Homo sapiens: one gene and its partners. The protein of the gene in region 3 purifies or fractionates together with the protein of the main gene of each other region. This does not show direct contact. Each region holds a gene or a part of one and is shown on either strand. Other genes may lie near its edges.

Region 1 (7,000 bases), on a different chromosome or scaffold from region 3:
TGTAATCCCAACACTTTGGGAGCCCCAGGTGGGTGGATCATTTGAGGTCAGGAGTTCGAGACCAGCCTGGCCAACATGGAGAAACCCCACTTCTACTAAAAATACAAAAATTACCCGGATGTGGTGGTGCGTGCCTGTAATTCCAGCTACTCGGGAGGCTGAGGCAGGAGAATTGCTTGAACCCAGGAGGTGGAAATTGAAGTGAGCTGAGGTCACACCACTGCACTCAAACCTGGGTGGCAGAGCGAGACTCTGTCTCAAAAAATAATAAGAACAAAAAATAAACTGTTAACCAAATGTCTCCCAAAGTTAGCTTGGCCCGGACCCAGGAATGATTAAGGGCAGTTTGGACATTAAAGCAAAATGGGGGTTGGTTAGATGAGATCTCTTTCACTGTCATAATTTTCTCACTTTTTCGCAAAGGCAGTTTTGGTTTCAGGACCAAGAAATAGAACCTGTCTCTACCCAGGAGCGCCTCAGGCACCATCCTTTGTCCATGGTCCAGCCTGCCTGGCCTTAACCCCTGGCTTTGTGTTGAATGCTCACCTGCTGGTTCTAGGTGTCCACAACATTATGGAAGGCCTTAGCAGCTTCACCTACCCCATTCCCAGAGTTACTGTTTAGGCCGAAGGGTTGTGACTGCTGGGGAATTGCTGTCAATCAGCGTACCCATACCGACAGCAGCATGTGAGACTAAGAAGTATGTGAGCTTCCTAGTCTCCCCTCCACCTTCCAGGTGCCTGGCCCCGGGTGTGTGTGTGTCCAGCCAGGGCCTGCCAGCATCCCTCTGCAGGCTGTGTGTGTGTCACTCTGAATTCACCCACAGAGTTGAGATTGGCACCGCGTCACATTCTTCCTAAGACTGTGTTGCAGAATTAGCATAAGAATAGCATTAAAATGTTAGTACTTTTGGCCGGTGGCTCACTCCTATAATCCCAGCACTTGGGAGGCCAAGGCAGGTGGATCACCTGAGGTCAGGAGTTCAAGACCAGCCTGGCTAACATGTTGAAACCCTGTCTCTACTAAAAATACAAAGAAAATTAGCCGGGCATGGTGGCAGGCGCCTGTAATCCCAGCTACAGGGCTGAGGCAGGAGAATCACTTCAACCTGGGAGGTGGAGGTTGCAGTAAGCTGAGACTGCACCATTGCCCTCCAGCCTGGGCAACAAGAGCGAAACTCCGTCTCAAAAAAAAAAAAAGTTAGTACTTTTAATTTGCATATCTTCGGAGCGCTACTATGTATTTTTTCTCCTTGAATCCTCTTAGTAGACAAACAAGGTAACCACAACCATAGCCAACCCGGGACTCAGCAGGCTCCAGGGATTGGAGCGGGGCCTTGTGTCCAGGAGCAGTAGAGTGGGTCCTGCCCCTGGTCTCTTGACTGTGGGTCTTGTGTTGTTTCTCTACCAGCGTTGACTTTTGGATTGGAAATTTGAAAGCTGCTAATGAATCTCCCTCATGAATTCATGTAACTGCTTTGATCCTAAGTATATTTAGTCTGTCCCACCTTGGCACAGTGGGTTCTGTCACCAGCTCCTCAACGTTAGGACCCAGGAGGTCCCTGTGGTAGGTAGTATGGGAAGGACATGATGACAGGGCAGTGCCATGGGAGCCTAGGAGGGGTCGGGAAAGGGTTCTCCTGTCTTCTTCACATGCATTTGCATAGTGTGGGAATGAATAAAAGGTTTAAAAGAACCTGTGTTATTCCTGTTACTATTTATTTTTCCAGAACATATCTGGTCAGATTTTCATTTTCTAGTTTTTATGTTCAAGTAAGCGTCTTAAGCGTGTGGGAATGTCATTCTCCTGCCTTTTTGTTAAATTAAAGACCAGGTGGGTGGGCACATTCCTTACCTGTGCTCTTGGAGTCCCACAGGGCCAAGTTTTTCTTAGTTCCTGAAGGTGACAGAATGAGCAGGCAGTCGTCTCATCAGAGTTGAGCCAGGCATCTCCTGTTTTTGTTTGTTAGAGACAGGGTCTTGCTTTATTGCTCAGGTTGGATTGTGGTGGCACCTCTTAGCTCACTGCAACTGTGAACTCCTGGGCACAAGCGATCCTCCCACCTCAGCCTCCTGAGTAGCTGGGACTACAGGCACTTGCCACTATGCATGGCTAATCTTGTGTTTTTTGTAGAAATGGGTGTCACTGGTATGTTACCCAGGCTGGTCCCGTACACCTGGCCTCAAACGATTTGCCAGCCTCGGCCTCCCAAATTGTTGGGATTACAGGCATGAGCCACCGTGTCCAGCTGGCATCTACTTTTTAGGGCAGTTCTTCCTTTTTCAAAAAGAGGCTTAACAATTATGAGCGAAATAAACCTCATTATATAAAATAAAAATATCACTCATGGTCCTCCCTTTCACTCAAAATAGCTCCCTTTGTTTGGTCTCTCTCCAAACGCGTGGGTGTCATCGGTGCTCATCTCTGTTCCGGGCCCCGTGGCCTTCAGCAGCAGCGTTTAAGATGTCTGTCCGTATTCTGCACGAGGGTTTATATCCCGTTCTGAGTGCTGGCCATTTGGGTGGGTTCCAGTTTTTGCTGGTATAAATAATTCTGTGATTTGCATTTTTATGTGAATATAACTTTTTTTTTTCTTTTGGGGTTTTCTTAGGATAGAAACCTGTATGTGGGGTTTGTAGTAAGGACTAGCACAGCTTATTAAAAATTGACCGTGGATCATTGTCAACCATGTTTCACAATTTAGAATATTCAGTTATTTAAATACTTCAATTTAATTCAAAGAATAAGCCAAAACCTTTTTGTATTTTCCCACCTTTTTATTTTGAAAAATTATATATCCACAGAATAAGTGAAAATGAACACTGATGGTCGCTTTATTAATTTAAATTTACCAGTTGTTAACGTTTGCCACATCTGCTTTATCTTTGTCTTTCTGCCTCCCTTCCTGCATCTCTACACACACACACACACACACACACGGGCATGCACATTTTTTTTTTTTATTGCTAAATCATTTGAAAGTAAGTTGCAGACATCTGACACTTTACTTTTAAATACTTCAACACTTATCTCCCAAGAATGAAAACAGTCTGCAACATAAATGAAACACATGATCACACCTAAGAAAAACAGTGGTTCCATAGTATCGTCTAACATATGGTTCAAAATAAAATTTGTCTCCAGAAGTCCTTGATAGCTTTTGTTTCCTCAGTCTACGATCCAGTTAGGTTTAGTGCATTGAGTCTGACTGTTTTGTAAATTCCGAGTACGTTAAAGCCTTTGGAATGCGTGCCATGGACTGTTCTGAAAAGGTTCCCCTTAAACCACTAGGTTTAAACCAATTTTTTTCCTTCAAAGGAAACATTCAGCACAGCTCTACGTGTTGAAGAGAGAGCTTTGGTGCTACTCTGATGGGGTGGGGACTGGAGCCTGCACTTGTCCCCTCCCCTGAGCCACTCTGGCAGATTGCTGCTCTTGGCCACATTGTGTCTTCCTAAAGCCAGCAGGGTTCCCGCAAACTTTTGGGCCACTGGCCTCTGAGTTTAGAGTTTATTTATCTCCTTGGCCACAATAGCCAGCTGTAGTCTACATTGTGGACGTCCTGAAAACTGGCAGTTCTCTGGCATTTGGCTCCTGGATTAGAAGCATTGCTCATACTGCAGCTCGTTGACAGCTGACTCTGTTCTCCGTTTCAGTGGCGGGACCACTGGATGCAGTGTGTGTACTTCCTGCCACAAGAGGAGCCTGTGGTGCAGGGCTCAGCGCTCTATCTGGTAGCCCACCACGATGACTACTGCGTATGGTACAGCCTGCAGAGGACCAGGTACGTCGAGCCTCGTGGGGGTGGAGGATGAGCCTCTGAGACTTGTATGTAAATTCCCCATTTACAGATCCTCTGGAGGTGCCAGTGGGTTGATTTGTGTCTGGACAGAATAACATAAGAACAAAGATTTGTGACCAGTGTGTCAGTGCCCATTCGTGTGTACCCAGGAGAGGCTGTCATGGGTTGCTGGAATCTGTTTAGAGCAGATGCGTAGGAAAAGTCTGGAATTAGCGGGTGCTCTAAGCCCTCATGCCTACTGGAGACCAGTGTCCAGATTCATGCCCTCTGGAGACCTGTGGAGGCGCTCACAGCCCACGTCTGTTTGTTCATCTCCTGGCCTAGCCCTGAAAAGAATGAGAGAGTCCGCCAGATGCGCCCCGTGTGTGACTGCCAGGCTCACCTGCTCTGGAACCGGCCTCGGTTTGGAGAGATCAATGACCAGGACAGAACTGATCGATACGTCCAGGCTCTGAGGACCGTAAGTGTCCAGCCCCTTGGCTTGTTGTGGGGAAAAGGGAGAAAGAAGTTTGTCCCATGAACCCCAGCACTTTGCTTATGATTTGCTGTTTCTTTCCTGTGTCCTCTTGTCTATGAGTGGCTTCAGCGAGCGCCTCCTGGGTGGGCACTGGAGCAGAAAGCGGGAGAGCCTGGGGCTGGACTTCCTGAGGGCTTGCTCTCTGCTCTACTGGGAGAGCCTCTGGCTGGGCTCCTGCTGGACACCTTTGCCTTGTCAGACACAGTCATTGCTGTGGGTGGTCACGGTGGATTAGGCCACCCCCTCTTTTCATGTGTTGTCACCTTTCTAAAATTTTCTAAGATGTAAATCTGATCATGTCGCTCTCCTGCCTGAAAACCTTTGCTCCCTGCTACCTGTAGCAGGGGACTCGGCTTGGGGATTACAGATGGGGCTTAGAGGGAGGGTCTCTTGAGGCCCTTGGGGGTGTGTACAGAAATAGGTGTGAATGTGTGCATTTTGGGGGATGGGGGGAGGATCCAAGCCATCCTGAGTTTCTCTCAGAGGGGTCTGTCACCCAGAAAGGCATCCTTGCCTTTGGGCAGTCAATTGTGAACACTCAAGCCTTGGAGGCTCTCAGCTGTCTGTGCTCTAACCAGACAGGGAAGAAGCCTGTTGTCATGGACTGGAAGGTGGCCTGCAGGTGGTGCAGGCCTTCAGCGGGGCCTCTAGGCTGGGTTGAGGGGTGTCTTTCCTGACACTGGGGACAGGTGGGGAGATGTGAGCAAGGCGGGCATGTTTGTGGCTGGGGGTGGTTACTGCATGAGGACGCAGGGGGATGGTCTGAGGTCTGGGCAAGTGGAGTGAGAAGGGAAGTATTTCTGACAGCTTGCCAGCAGGAATCTTCTGGCAAACTGGAGGAAGCCCTGTGCTGAGCTTGCCTGTTCCCCGCAGGTGCTGAAGCCAGACAGCGTGTGCCTGTGTGTCAGCGATGGCAGCCTGCTCTCCGTGCTGGCCCATCACCTGGGGGTGGAGCAGGTACTGACATGCACCCTTGTCAGCCTCCTGATGTGGGCTTGTGAGTTAGAGCATTGCGTGGTCCGGGTGCACAATTCTGTGATCAAGGCTCTTTGCAAAGGCCACTGTTGTGGGCACAGCATGCTCGGGTCAGGGGCTGGGGGGTTTATTGCCTGTGCGTGCAGGCAGGCGTCAGGCCTCAGAGCTGGTGTTCAGGCTGCCCCAGGGAGGGAATGAGGGCAGGGAGGGTTGTTCAGGTGTGTCCTCTGTCTTAGGATGGTCTTGTCGCATTTTAATCTTTAATTTCTTCTCTGTTAAGTGAATATCTTACAACTAATAGCGTGGTGTTCCCTCTAGGTGTTTACAGTCGAGAGTTCAGCAGCTTCTCACAAACTGTTGAGAAAAGTAAGTGAGAATTGTTGTTGCTGAAATAGTGAGAGGACCTGTGGGGTCTGGGTTGATGGCTTTGAAGTGGCATTGGCCCCAGGGGAACAAAGGAGTGGTGGCTCGCTTGCACCCCTGTGTTGTCTTGGTTGCTGCCTGGAGAGCAGCCAGAGGCCTTGGGAGCTGTCACTGAAATAGAGGCAGGCATTTGCACTCTGCTTTGTTTTTTTGTGTCTGAAGAAGTTTAGGCTTTTTTCCTCACTTCACATAAGCTACTGTTGCGGTAGAATTAAATGTAGGATGTGTTTCTGGGACATCAGTGCTGAGGGAGCCAGTGCTCACAGCCTGATGGGAGATGGCATTTCTCTCCCTGGCCAGTAACTGGTTTGATTTCCTCTCCAAAGGGGAACTCCCTTCACCAGAACTGCAGGCTCGCACTGAGTCCTGGTGTGCACATGCGGGAGAAATTTCTTTTGCTTTTATCACATTGTGCTCCTGATCTCATCCGTGGTCTATAGGATGCCCCCCAAGGAGAGGATTTTTCCACAAAGCAGATAAAAGTGGTGTTCCAGAACCATTTGCCGGAAAATTCAAAGCGGAGAATGCAACTTTGAGAGATTTTTTTTTCCTGACAAACACAATACTTTAGTATGAATACAGTAATTTTACGGTTTTCTTTCTAAGATCTTCAAGGCTAACCACTTGGAAGATAAAATTAACATCATAGAGAAACGGCCGGAATTATTAACAAATGAGGACCTACAGGGCAGAAAGGTGAGTAGCGGGAGCCTTTTGGCCACGCTGGGCTGTGTTAGGGTGGTCAGCACGGCACTGAAGTAGCCCAGGCCCCACCCTGTCCCTGGAGTCTCACAGTGGGTCCTCCACATGCAACCTTACCTCCTACGAGCTCCCACCATCAAGGGTGTGGTGAAGCTTTCATGGAGCTGCCCGGTGAGCAGATGGTTGCACTGCTCTTTTTTTTTTTTTTTTTTTTTTTTTTTTGAAAATGGGGTCTCGCGCTGTCGTCCAGGCTGGAGTGCAGTGGCACGATCTTGGCTTACTGCAGCCTCGACCTTCCAGCCTCAAGCGATCCTCCCACCTCTCCCGAGTAGCTGGGACTGTAGGCATGTGCCATTATGCCTGGCTAATTTTTGTATTTTTTGTAGAGTCAGCGTTTCATCATGTGGCCCAGGCTGGTCTTGAACTCCTGGGCTCATGCGATCTGCCAGTCTCAGCCTCCCAAAGTGTCGGGGTTACAGGCATGAGCCACCACACCTGGCTGTACTGCTCTTAGCTCAGCCTCATCTCTGCTCCTTCAGGTCAGGACAGAGCAGCTCTCTTGGGGTTCCTAGGAGCAGAGC
Region 2 (7,949 bases), on a different chromosome or scaffold from region 3:
TGTTTTTTTTTGTTTGTTTGTTTTATTTTGACATGGAGTCTTGCACTGTCACCCGGGCTGGAGTGAAGTAGCATGATCTTGGCTCATTGCAACCTCCACTTCCCAGGTTCAAGAGATTCTCCTGCCTCAGCCTCCCAAGTAGCTGTAATTACAGGTGCCCATCACCATGCCTAGCTAATTTTTTTTTTGTATTTTTAGTAGAGACGGGGTTTCACCATGTTGGCCAGGCTGGTCTCGAACTCCTGACCTTGTGATCTGCCCCCCCCTTGGCCTCCCAAAGTGCCTAATTGGTTTTTTACACTGTCATGCCCACCTTTGAGTGGTGCCTTTGTTTTAGCCTTCGTTTTGCATACTCACAAGCCAATCAGCATGCACTCCCCATTCTGAGTCCAGAAAAGCCCTAGACCCAGCCACACTGAGGGAGAGACTGCCCAACTTGGGGTGCGGGACCACTCTCACATCCCCTCTTTGCTGAGAGTTGTTCCATCACTCAACAAAATTATTCTCTGTCCTCCTCACCCTTTGATTGTCAGCGTATCCTCATTCTTCTTGGACTCCGGACAAGAGCTTGAGACCCACCAAGTGAGGGTACAAAGAAAGCTGTAACAGTGCTAGGGTTGAGCCAGCTCTGGAGCCACAGGCCAGAGCAGGTAACAGGGCTGACATCTTCCTGGACAGGGGTGTCACTGGCTGGGGGTCTCCGGCCGGCAGAATGACCAAGAAAAATCCTGTGTCACTATCATAAATCACCACAAACTGTGGGTTTAAAACAACACCTATATATTCTGGAGGTCAGAAGTTTGAAATCAGTTTGACTGGGCAGAAATGAGGGTCCACAGAGCTGTGCTTCCTCCAGAGGCTCTCAGGGAAGCTGCTCCCTGCCCTTCCCAGCTTCTCATGCTATCTTCCTTGCACCCCTTAGCCTGTGGCTCCTTCCTCCTTCAAAGGCAGTGGAGCATCAGCAAATCTCTTTCTCTGCTGAGGGCCTCACTCTCAGCCAAGGAGGGCAGGCTAGGCTGGGCACCATGGCTCACATCTGTAATCTGAGCACGTGGGGAGGCTGAGGTGGGAAGATCACTTGAGTCCAGGAGTTTGAGACCAGCCTGGGCAAGATGGTGAAACTCTGTCTCTACAAAATTGAAAATATTAGCCAGGCGTGGTGGTGGTATGCCTGTAATCTCAGCTAATCTGGAGGCTGAGGTGGGAGGATCACTTGAGCCCAGGAGTTTGAGACCAGCCTGGGCAAGATGGTGAAACCCTCTCTCTACAAAAATAAAAATATTAGCTGGGTGTGGTGGTGGTGCACCTGTAGTCTCAGCTAATCCAGAGGCTGAGGTGGGGAGTTTGAGGCTGCAGTGAACTATGATTGTGCCACTGCACTACAGCCTGGGCCACACAGTAAGACTCTGTCTCTAAAAAAAAATTAATTAATTAATTAATTAAATTTTAAAAAGGAGGTGAGCCTGACCTGGATGAGAGGCCGTTCCCCAAAATTCTTTGGGTGCTGGTTCAATGTCCTTCTTGCTCTCGCTCAATCTAGTTCAGGGAGGAGAAGGCAGGGCTGACCATGTGCAAGTCGCTGGAGACCCTCACAGCAGGCTTCAGATTCCACCATGCCCCTGCCTTCCTCAGGTAGAACAGTGAGGGTGGCTTCTGGGACAAGAGAGGATTCCACCCCATTGTCATTGTCTGGGATACATGCTTGGGCCTGACCTGGCATTGAGGATGGCCTGCCCACAGGGACAGCCAGTGTGAGACCAGGTCCAGGCTGCTGCAGCCATGATGCCTCCATGCACTACAGCTACTGGAGTCCCAGTAGGTGAGCCCCTCTGCCTAGAACGTGGGCCTGATTCTCAGCTGGACCCCTGGGCAGGATCATAGCTCTGGGTCCAACCCAGGGGTGACACTTGCCGGCTGGGTGACTGTGGGCAAGCCGCCTTCTCCTAGCTGGAAGTAGAATGTGGGATGACAGCAGCTGGGCCGATTGTCATGAAGCCTTTCTTGATGAGCAGTCCATGAAGCACTCTGCCCACGGCCCTCTACCCTCCACTGCAGCACTCACAGGCGGGGGCAGCAAACCTTTCCTTTATTGGAGAATGTGACACACAGTCCTGGGTGGGTTTGAGGTGAGCTTGAACTAAGGGAAGCCTCACCCCTGTCCTGCCCCTGTCCCAGTTAAGGGGCTCTCCCTAAAATGAACTATTCCTACTTCTCTTTATTTTTTAAAAAATTAAATCTAGCCAGGAATGGTGGTTTACACTTGTAATCCCAGCACTCTGGGGGGCCAAGGCGGGTGGATCACCTGAGGTCAGGAGTTCGAGACGAGCCTGGCCAATATGGTGAAACTAAAAATACAAAAATTAGCCGGGCATGGTGGCATACACCTGTAATCCCAGCTACTCGGGAGGCTGAGGCAGGAGAATTGCTTGAACCCGGGAGGCAGAGGTTGCAGTGGGCCAAGGTCGCACCACTGCACTCCAGCCTGGGTGACAGAGTGAGACTCTGTCTCAAAAAAAAAAAAAAATTAAATTTTTATTTAATCTTTTTTTCTCTTTGGCTTCTCAAAGTTCAACTTAAAAAGGTAGCTCCAGGGACCAGGCGCGGTGGCTTATGCCTATAATCCCAGCACTTTGGGAGGCCGAGGTGGGCTGATCACGAGGTCAAGAGATCGAGACCATTCTGACAAACATTGTGAAACCCCGTCTCTACTAAAAATACAAAAATTAGCTGGGCGTGGTGGCGTGTGCCTGTAGTCCCAGCTACTCAGGAGGCTGAGGCAGGAGAATCACTTGAACCCAGGATGTGGAGGTTGCAGTGAGCCAAGATTGCGCCATTGCACTCCAGCCTGGCGACAGGGCAAGACTCCGTCTCAAAAAAAAAAAAAAAAAGAGGTAGGTCCAGGCCGGGCATGGTGGCTCACACCTGTAATCCCAGCATTTTGGGAAGCCAAGGCAGGTGGATCACCTGAAGTCAGGAGTTTGAGACCAGCCAGGGCAACATGGTGAAACCTCGTCTCTACTAAAAATAAAAAAAATTAGCTGGGTGTGGTGGCAGGCACATGTAATCCCAGCTACTCAGGAGGCCGAGGCACAAGAATTGCTTGAACCCGGGAAGGAGAGGTTGCAGTGAGCTGAGATCATGCCACTGCACTCCAGCCTGGGCAACAGAGCAAGACTCTGTCTCAAAACAAACAAACAAACAAAGGTAGGTCTGCTCCAGGCCAAACTTTTTATTTATTTATTTTTTGAGACGGATTTTCGCTCTGTTGTCCAGGCTGGAGTGCAGTGGTGCAGTCTCAGCTCACTGCAACCTCTGCCTCGTGGGTTCAAGTGATTCTCCCACCTCAGCCTCCTGAGCAGCTGGGATTACAGGCACACGCCACCACGCCCGGCTTATTTTTGTATTTTTAGTAGAGACGGGTTTTCACCATGTTGGTCAGGCTGGTCTCAAACTCCTGACCTCGTGATCTGCCCGCCTCGGCCTCCCAAAGTGCTGGGATTACAGGCGTGAGCCACCAGGCCTGGCCTTTTTTTTTCTTTTTTTTGAGACAGGGTCTTGCTCTGTTGCTTAGGCTGGAGTGCAAGGGCACGATCTCTGCTCACTGCAACTTCTGCCTCCCAGTTCAAGTGATTCTCCTGCCTCAGCCTCCTGAGTAGCTGGGACTACAGGCGTGTACCACCACACCTGGCTAATTAAACATTTTATTTTTAATTAATTAATTAATTTTTTTTTTTTTAAAGACAGGGTCTCACTCTGTTGCCCAGGCTGTAGTGCAGTGGTGCAGTCATAGCTCACTATAGCCTCGAACTCCTGGGCCCAAGTGATCCTCCTGCCTTAGCCTCCCAAACAGCTGCAACTAAGGTGCATGCCACCAGGTCTGGCTAATTTTTTTTGTGCTTTCTGTAGAGACGGGGGTGGGGGGGGCTGAGTGGGCGGGGGTGGGAGTAGGGTGTCTCACTATGTTTCCCAGGCTGGTCTCCAACTCCTAGGCTCAAGCAATCCTCCCACCTCGGCCTCCCGTAGCGCTGGGATTACAGGTGGGAGCCACCCCGCCTAGCTAATGTTCCTGTTTCTCTTGTCCAGAGCTGGAGTCCAGCCTGATTCCCACCCACAGGTTGTAACCAATGAGCCCTAAGAGAAGCGCTGAAGACCAGGAAGGCCCAGATCCAGGGGTAGGGGTGTTGGGTCCTCTCCACTGGGGTGCAGGCAGAGAGGCAAAGAGGAAGGAGACCCTTCGTGACTCTCAGCGAGGCTGTGAAGAAGAATATCCGGAAGCCACAAGAGGTATATCCGGAAGCCACAAGAGGTGTGGAAACCCCGTTTCCAAGGCTGGGCCCAGTAGCTCGTGCCTGTAATCCCAGCATTTTGGTAGGCTGAGGCGGGTGGATGGCTCGAGCTCAGGAGTTCGAGAGCAGCCTGGGTAACATGGCGAAACCCCTCCCCCCCCCCCCCCCCCGTCTCCAAAAAATACAATAGCCAGCGTGGTGCAGCCGTCTGTAGTCCCAGCTACTCTGGAGGCTCAGGTGGGAGGATCGCTTCAGGCTGGGAGGCAGAGATCACCCCACTGCATTCCAGCCTGGAAGACAGGGCCAGGCCCTATCTCAAAAAATAACAAGGAAACCCCGTTTTCGATTTCGCCAACGCGGAGGGGCCGAAGCAGCAGATGGGCTTGGACGGTCTCCCGCCGCTCCTCCCGGACCTCCCTACTCCTGGGCTTTTCCAGGGGCAGCCCCGTGGTGGCCCCGCCCAGCGCCCGGGAGAGGGGCGAGGCCGGGGGCGGAATGGGCGGAGTTCGACTGTGAGGGAGGTGGAGGCGGGAGTCCGGTGGTGGGGGTGGAGTCTGGAGGTAGGGCGGGGCCAGAACAGCGGCGGGGGCGGAGTTCCGGCTGGGGGCGGGGCGGGGCGGAGCGGGAGCTGCGGGATTCCGGCTTCAGGGGCGGGGCACCGGCCTCTGGGCGGAGATCTGCTGCCGCGTTCTACCCTTCCGGCCCGTGTTCTATCCGCCGCCTCCACCTTCCATCCGGCGCCGGCTTTCGGCGCGACGGTCGCCGCGTTCCATCGTCGCGCGGCCCTTCGGGCGCCCGAGCCCGCAATGTCGGGCCCCAACGGAGACCTGGGGATGCCGGTGGAGGCGGGAGCGGAAGGCGAGGAGGACGGCTTCGGGGAAGCAGGTGACCCGAGGGGGCTGCTGGAGCAACCTTGCATTTTCAGGGCTGCCCTCCCGGGAAGGGGAATCGAGATGGGGTCTCGGAAGGGAACAAAGAGCCCACCCATTCCGCCCCGAGCGGGTCCGGAGTTGTAGGTGCTGTCTCGGATGCAGGGCGAGCACCCGCGAGCCGGTTCCCAGCCCCGTGAGAGCTGCAGGTCACCAGTCCCGTTTTACAGATGGGGAAACTAAGGCAGCTTCGGGGACACTCGCCCTTGTGGGCCTTGCTCCACCACTTCCTTCAGTCCTGGGGGAGACCGAGGCACCTGAGGGAGGCAGGGTTGAGCTTAGCGGAGGGGCCGGGCCGGGACGTGGAGTTGGGGACGCGGGGGCGTCGCTCTGCCGATTCAGCATCCCCAGCCACCCGGCTTTGCTGGTGTAGCCTCACAGCCTTGCCAAATGTCAGCAGCTTACAGAGCAGCCTTTTGCGTGCTTACGAGTGCAGGGGTGGGGTGTGAAGAGAACCATCGGCTCCCTTCTCACCTTCTTCAGCCTCAGTTTCCCCCTCTATAAAATAGGAATAACGATTAGTGTCTGCTGCACTGGGATGTGTCAGAATTAAATGCAAAAAAAAGGAAAATCCTTAGCAGGTTCTAGCATGCAAGAGTTCAGTAAATGGTTATCGTCATTATTATCTTTGGTATAGTAAAGATTGGCATGTTAACATACACTGAGGATTTAGTAAATGTGGTGTAAGTATGGTGCATGCTCTTTGTTTTGTTTGGCGTAACAGCTTTATTGAGCTATACAACTTACCCATACTGTACAGTTCAGTAGGCTTTTGTGTATTCCCAGGGTTGTACATCCATCACAATAGTTTCAGGTAGCTCTGCATTGGGCAATGCTGTTGGGAGCATCAGGAAGAGCTTCCCAGGAGGTCACATTAAGTGGATGTTGGCAGACAGGACTTAGAACAGTGGGGAGGAGGGTGGTGTCCCAGGCAGAAGCAAAGGCTTGGAACTGGGAAGTACCCTTGACACAGATAAAGCCTGGCCTGGAGGGGTGTGGGGCACCTGCCTCCCCAATTCCTCCTCCTAGCCTGTATCCCAGGACACAGAGTTCGAAATATTGATAATAATGACCATCCACTAAGTACTTGCTGTGGCCAGATCCTGTCTGAGCTTTTTTTTTTTTTTTGAGTCGGAGTCTTGCTCTGTTGCCCAGGCTGGAGTACAGTGGCGTGATCTTGGCTCACTGCAACCTCCGCCTTCTGGGTTCAAGCGATTCTCATGCCTCAGCCTCCCGAGTAGCTGGGACTACAGACGCCTGCCACCACGCCTGGCTAATTTTTATACATCTTTAGTAGAGACAATGTTTCACCACGTCGGCTAGGCTGGTCTCGAACTCCTGACCTCAGGTGATCCACCCGCCTTGGCTTCCCAAAGTACTGGGATTACAGGCGTGAGCCACCACACCGGCCACTGTCTGAACTCTTGATGTGTTTGAATCCTCACAACCTTTTTTATTTTCCCTTTTTTCCAGAAAGGTACAACTTGCTGGGGTAAAGCAGAGCTGAAATTCAAACCCAAGTGACCCTGACCCCCAAGTCCAATCCTGAGTTTCGGCTGTTACCAACCTGGAGGACCCTGGGCAGGTTCCTTCCTTCTGAGGCCTCGGTTTCCCTAGCTATATACCATGAGGGGGTTGGACTTTAAGATGCAGCCGATTTCCCAGGACGCTGTCGTCTGTGAGGGTGGCTGGCTCTAGGCAACGGGTGCCCTTTCCTAGAACACAGGCACATATGCACCCATAACCCAGATACGCTCCTCCAGCTCCTCCACCGGCTGCTTCCCCCTTGGTCTCAAGCTGGCAGCTGAGTGTATGTGAGTCATGGGCTGGCTCAGAACTGGGTCCCGCAGTGGGCACAGGCCCAGACCTTGAGTCCTCAGGGACACTGTGTTGCTGAGCAGGGCAGCTCTGGAGTGGCCGTGGAGGGGAGGGAGTGATGGTTTCTAGTGGAGACCAGGGAAGGCTTCTTGGAGGAGGCATTTTGAGCTGGTCCTTGAAGGGCTGTTGTGGTTGAGGCATTCTAGGTTGCAGGGATAGTTGAGCAATGGCGGAGAGGCTGGAAAGTCAGAGGCTTCATTCATTCACTCACTCAGTCATTCAACAAATGCTTATTGCAAAACTGTGAGGGCACCAGGGAGCCAGCAGCGAACACAGGACCGTTCATCTTTCATGGGGAAACATAACAGCACTCAGATAAGCACAGCAGTCAATCCTGGAGAGAAGGTCGTGGAGGGCTGAGGAGGGCTAGGGGCTCAGCATAGAGGCCTGATCCAGTCTGGGGCATTGGGTGGGCTCCCGGTGGTGACATCCATACTGAGACTTGAAGGATGAGTGGGACTCATCCAGGAGGAGAGAAGGGAAGGAAGATGGGAGGACCCAGCACCTTCCAGGCAGAGACAGCAGCATGTTCAAAGGGCCTGAGGTAGGTAAAGGCAGGTGTGAGAGAGGAAAGGAAGAGGCAGGGAGGCAGGGCTAGCTAGGAGGCAGGGGCTGGAGACTCCGCTGGGTGTTTTATCCTGAGGGAGCCACAGAAGGGCTGGCGAACAGGGCCCATCTGGGGACAGAGGCCTTGAATGCCCAACTCAGGAATGTGGGCTCTGGCCACTAAGCAGCTGCTGCAGGAAGTGCAGAGACTTGGCATCTGGCAGGACTTCCCATGTAGGACACTGGCTCGCCACCCTATGACCACCCTAACCCTAGAAAAAAGGATGCAGTACTAAAGTGTCATTCATTC
Region 3 (2,969 bases):
TGGCTCTTTTTTTTTTTTTTTTTTGAGATGGCAGTCTCACTGTTCCCCAGGCTGGAGTGGAGTGGCATGATCTCTGCTCACTGCAACCTCTGTCTTCCAGGTTCAAGTGATTCTCCTGCCTCAGCCTCCCGAGTAGCTGGGATTACAGGCCTGTGCCACCACACCCAGCTAATTTTTGTATTTTTAGTAGGGACGGGGTTTCGCCATGTTGGCCAGGCTGGTCTCAAACTCCTGACCTTAGGTTATCTGCCTGCCTCAGCTTCCCAAAGTGCTGGGACGACAGGCGTGAGCCACCGTGCCTGGCCTGCAACGGCTCTTTGTGATGCCCGGAATGCTCTTCCTCCAAATCCCTACGTGGCTCCCTCTCTGCCCTGTTTTAGGATCTTACTTGTTGGTGTCTTTTCACCTTCTCTGCTCTAAAACTGCACCCCTTCCTCCCTTCCCTACTATGGTTTTCTCCATAGCAACACCGCCTCCCAGACCTGACACATCCCAGACAGCAGGCCCTCACTGCAGGGGTTGTTCGTCCTCTGGAACCTGAGCCTGTAGCGCTCCAGGCCAGCCCCTTCTGATCACCCAGGTTTCTGCTAAAACATGGCCTTGGAGGGCCCTCCCCCAGGCCCAAACCAAATTTTTGTTGTCTTTATAGCACTCATCGCTCATGTCTGCAGTGTTCTTGTTTATTTGTTTACTAGTTCATCGTCTACTCAAGTAGAATGAGCACCATGAGGGCAGGGATTTTCTCAGCTGTGTCCACCATGGTATCATGAACTCAGTACCAGGCTTGGCAAAAAGCGTGGGACTCCTTAGAACCAGGTATGATTCTCCCAAACAACCCTTGCTCTGCTCTGAGGCTGTCGTACTGATTTGCAAAGATCTGAGCCGGGGGTGGCAGAAGCCTGGTACCCAGGGGATTGGGGGCTGATGAGAGACTTGGGCCCAGGTCACCCCTAAGGTTCAAGAGATCCCTAGGAGTGGGGTGGTAGAACCCAGGCCCTTGAGGGAGGCACTGCTACTACCCAGGCGTGGGCGGTGGGGCTGGGCCAAGCCCACGTATAATGTCTTTCCTCCTCCATCTTCTATCTTTTGTCCCTCGACATTGTCTGTCTTGATCCTTATGCACTGGGGATCCGAGTGTCCAGGAGCTCCGGCTTGGCATCCACTGTGGCAGGTGCAGGGTCCTGGGCAAGGACCATGGCTATGTCAGGCCCTCCACAGATGATGGTGAAGGTTTGGGATTCCTCAGGTCCAAGGGTCTGGGCTGTTGTCTAAGGCAAAGAAGTGGTAGAGATGGGGAACATTACGAAGCAAGTTGCGGGAGAGACAGACAGATAACGGTGAGGAACAGGGAGGCAAAGGTGGCAGGAGGGCGTGTCAGGAAACAGAGAGAGATGTGGGGAGAGATATGAGGAGACAGGAAAGCAGATGTGAGGGCCAGAGAGACATTCATGGGAAAGGAAAGAAGGGTGGGGAAATGGGAAGAGAAGTGCGGGGGCACAGACGCAGACACGTGGGGGAAAGAGATGTGCAGGCAGACAGACGTACAGACAGGGTCAGAGATATGGGGGAGACAGAAAATATGCAGATAAAGAGAGACACAGGGAGGTGGGGAAACAGGTGGCGGACAGAGATGATGGGCAGAAAGACAATGAATGTTGGGGAGGGAGGAGATTGGGAGGTAGGGATAGATGAGTAGGAGACAGAGATTGAATGACAGGAGGGGAGGCAGAGAGAGGCAGTCAGCTCAGGGGATCTGGCAGGCTCCACAAAGAGCCCCAGGCCCGAGTCTGAGCTCTGTCCCTGCCCCACTGTCCCTCTGTGCCCCAGGCCACAGTCTCAAACTTCAAGGCCCCAGAGGCAGCCACACTGTAGCTCCAGCCAACTGCTATCACCTGAGAATCCAAGCCCAGTGCTGCTAGATATGCAGAGCCTTCAGGAAAGACCAGACTTTTTTTTTTTTTTTTTTTTTGAGACAGAGTCTCACAGTGTCACCCAGGCTGGAGTGCAGTAGCACAATCACAGTTCATTAAAGCCTTGACCTTCTGGACTCAAGCAATACTCCCACTTCAGCCTCTCAAATAGCTAGAACTATAGGTGCAACACTTGGCTAATTTTTTGTGTTTCTTGTAGAGACAGGGTTTCACCATGTTGCCCAGTCTGGTCTCAAACTCCTGGGCTCAAGTCATCTACCTGCTTCAGCCTCCCAAAGTGCTGGGATTACAGGTGTGAGCCACTGCACTCGGCCATTATAAATTATTTTAAAGCACTGCGGAGGCCAAACAAATTGTATCTGTGGGTCATGTCCAAACCACTGACTATCAATCTGAGACTCCTGGCTGGGCATGGTGGCTCATACCTGTAATCCCAGCACTATAGGAGGCCGAGGTGGGCTGATTACCTGAGGTCAGGAGCTCAAGACCAGCCTGGCCAACATGGCAAAACCCCGTCTCTACTACAAACACAAAACTTAGCTGGGCATGGTGGCACGTGCCTGTAATCCCAGCTACTTGGGAGGCTGAGACAGGAGAATCGCTTGAACCAGAGAGGCAGAGGTTGCAGTGAGCTGAGATCGCACCACTCCACTCCAGCCTGGGCAACAGAGCAAGACTCCTTCTCAAAAAAAAAAAAAAAAAAAATCGGATACTCCTTAACTCCAGAGGTACTGTGGGGGCTCCTTCCTGAGCCCCTTCAGTGAGTCTAGCATTCAGAGCTCTGTGTGGGCATCTCTCTCATACAAGCAGGGCTCTGAAAGCCATGGGGGCTAAGCTGGGCACCTCAAGCTTGGCCCTAGGGTTTTAAGACAGGAGAAATTTCGCCTTGGTCAAACTGTGATTTTCAGAGACATAACACCATTCCTCATCTTCCTCCCCCGCCACCCCACACACAGAGACATAACACCCTTCCTCAACTTCCTCCCCTACACACACACACACACACACACACACACACACACACCTTCCTCAGCTTCC

The links. Proteins that work in one complex are often made in the same cells at the same time.
Region 1: the proteins of THAP8 (region 3) and PRMT7 purify together in Homo sapiens (affinity purification with mass spectrometry; 3 studies listed by BioGRID and IntAct, with this or other methods). This does not show direct contact.
Region 2: the proteins of THAP8 (region 3) and BBLN purify together in Homo sapiens (affinity purification with mass spectrometry; 3 studies listed by BioGRID and IntAct, with this or other methods). This does not show direct contact.

The regions. Positions count from the first base shown.
Region 1 is NC_000016.10:68,342,019-68,349,018, forward strand, and holds part of PRMT7 (protein arginine N-methyltransferase 7), read left to right. Parts: intron 1-3,656; coding exon 3,657-3,784; intron 3,785-4,126; coding exon 4,127-4,262; intron 4,263-5,192; coding exon 5,193-5,276; intron 5,277-5,612; coding exon 5,613-5,660; intron 5,661-6,323; coding exon 6,324-6,413; intron 6,414-7,000. UniProt on the Homo sapiens protein: Arginine methyltransferase that can both catalyze the formation of omega-N monomethylarginine (MMA) and symmetrical dimethylarginine (sDMA), with a preference for the formation of MMA.
Region 2 is NC_000009.12:128,155,316-128,163,264, forward strand, and holds the start of BBLN (bublin coiled-coil protein), read left to right. Parts: upstream 1-4,949; 5' UTR 4,950-5,092; coding exon 5,093-5,171; intron 5,172-7,949. UniProt on the Homo sapiens protein: Essential for intermediate filament organization in intestinal cells, interacts with intermediate filament and regulates intestinal lumen morphology.
Region 3 is NC_000019.10:36,034,325-36,037,293, forward strand, and holds the end of THAP8 (THAP domain-containing protein 8), read right to left. Parts: intron 1,269-2,969; coding exon 1,116-1,268; 3' UTR 660-1,115; downstream 1-659.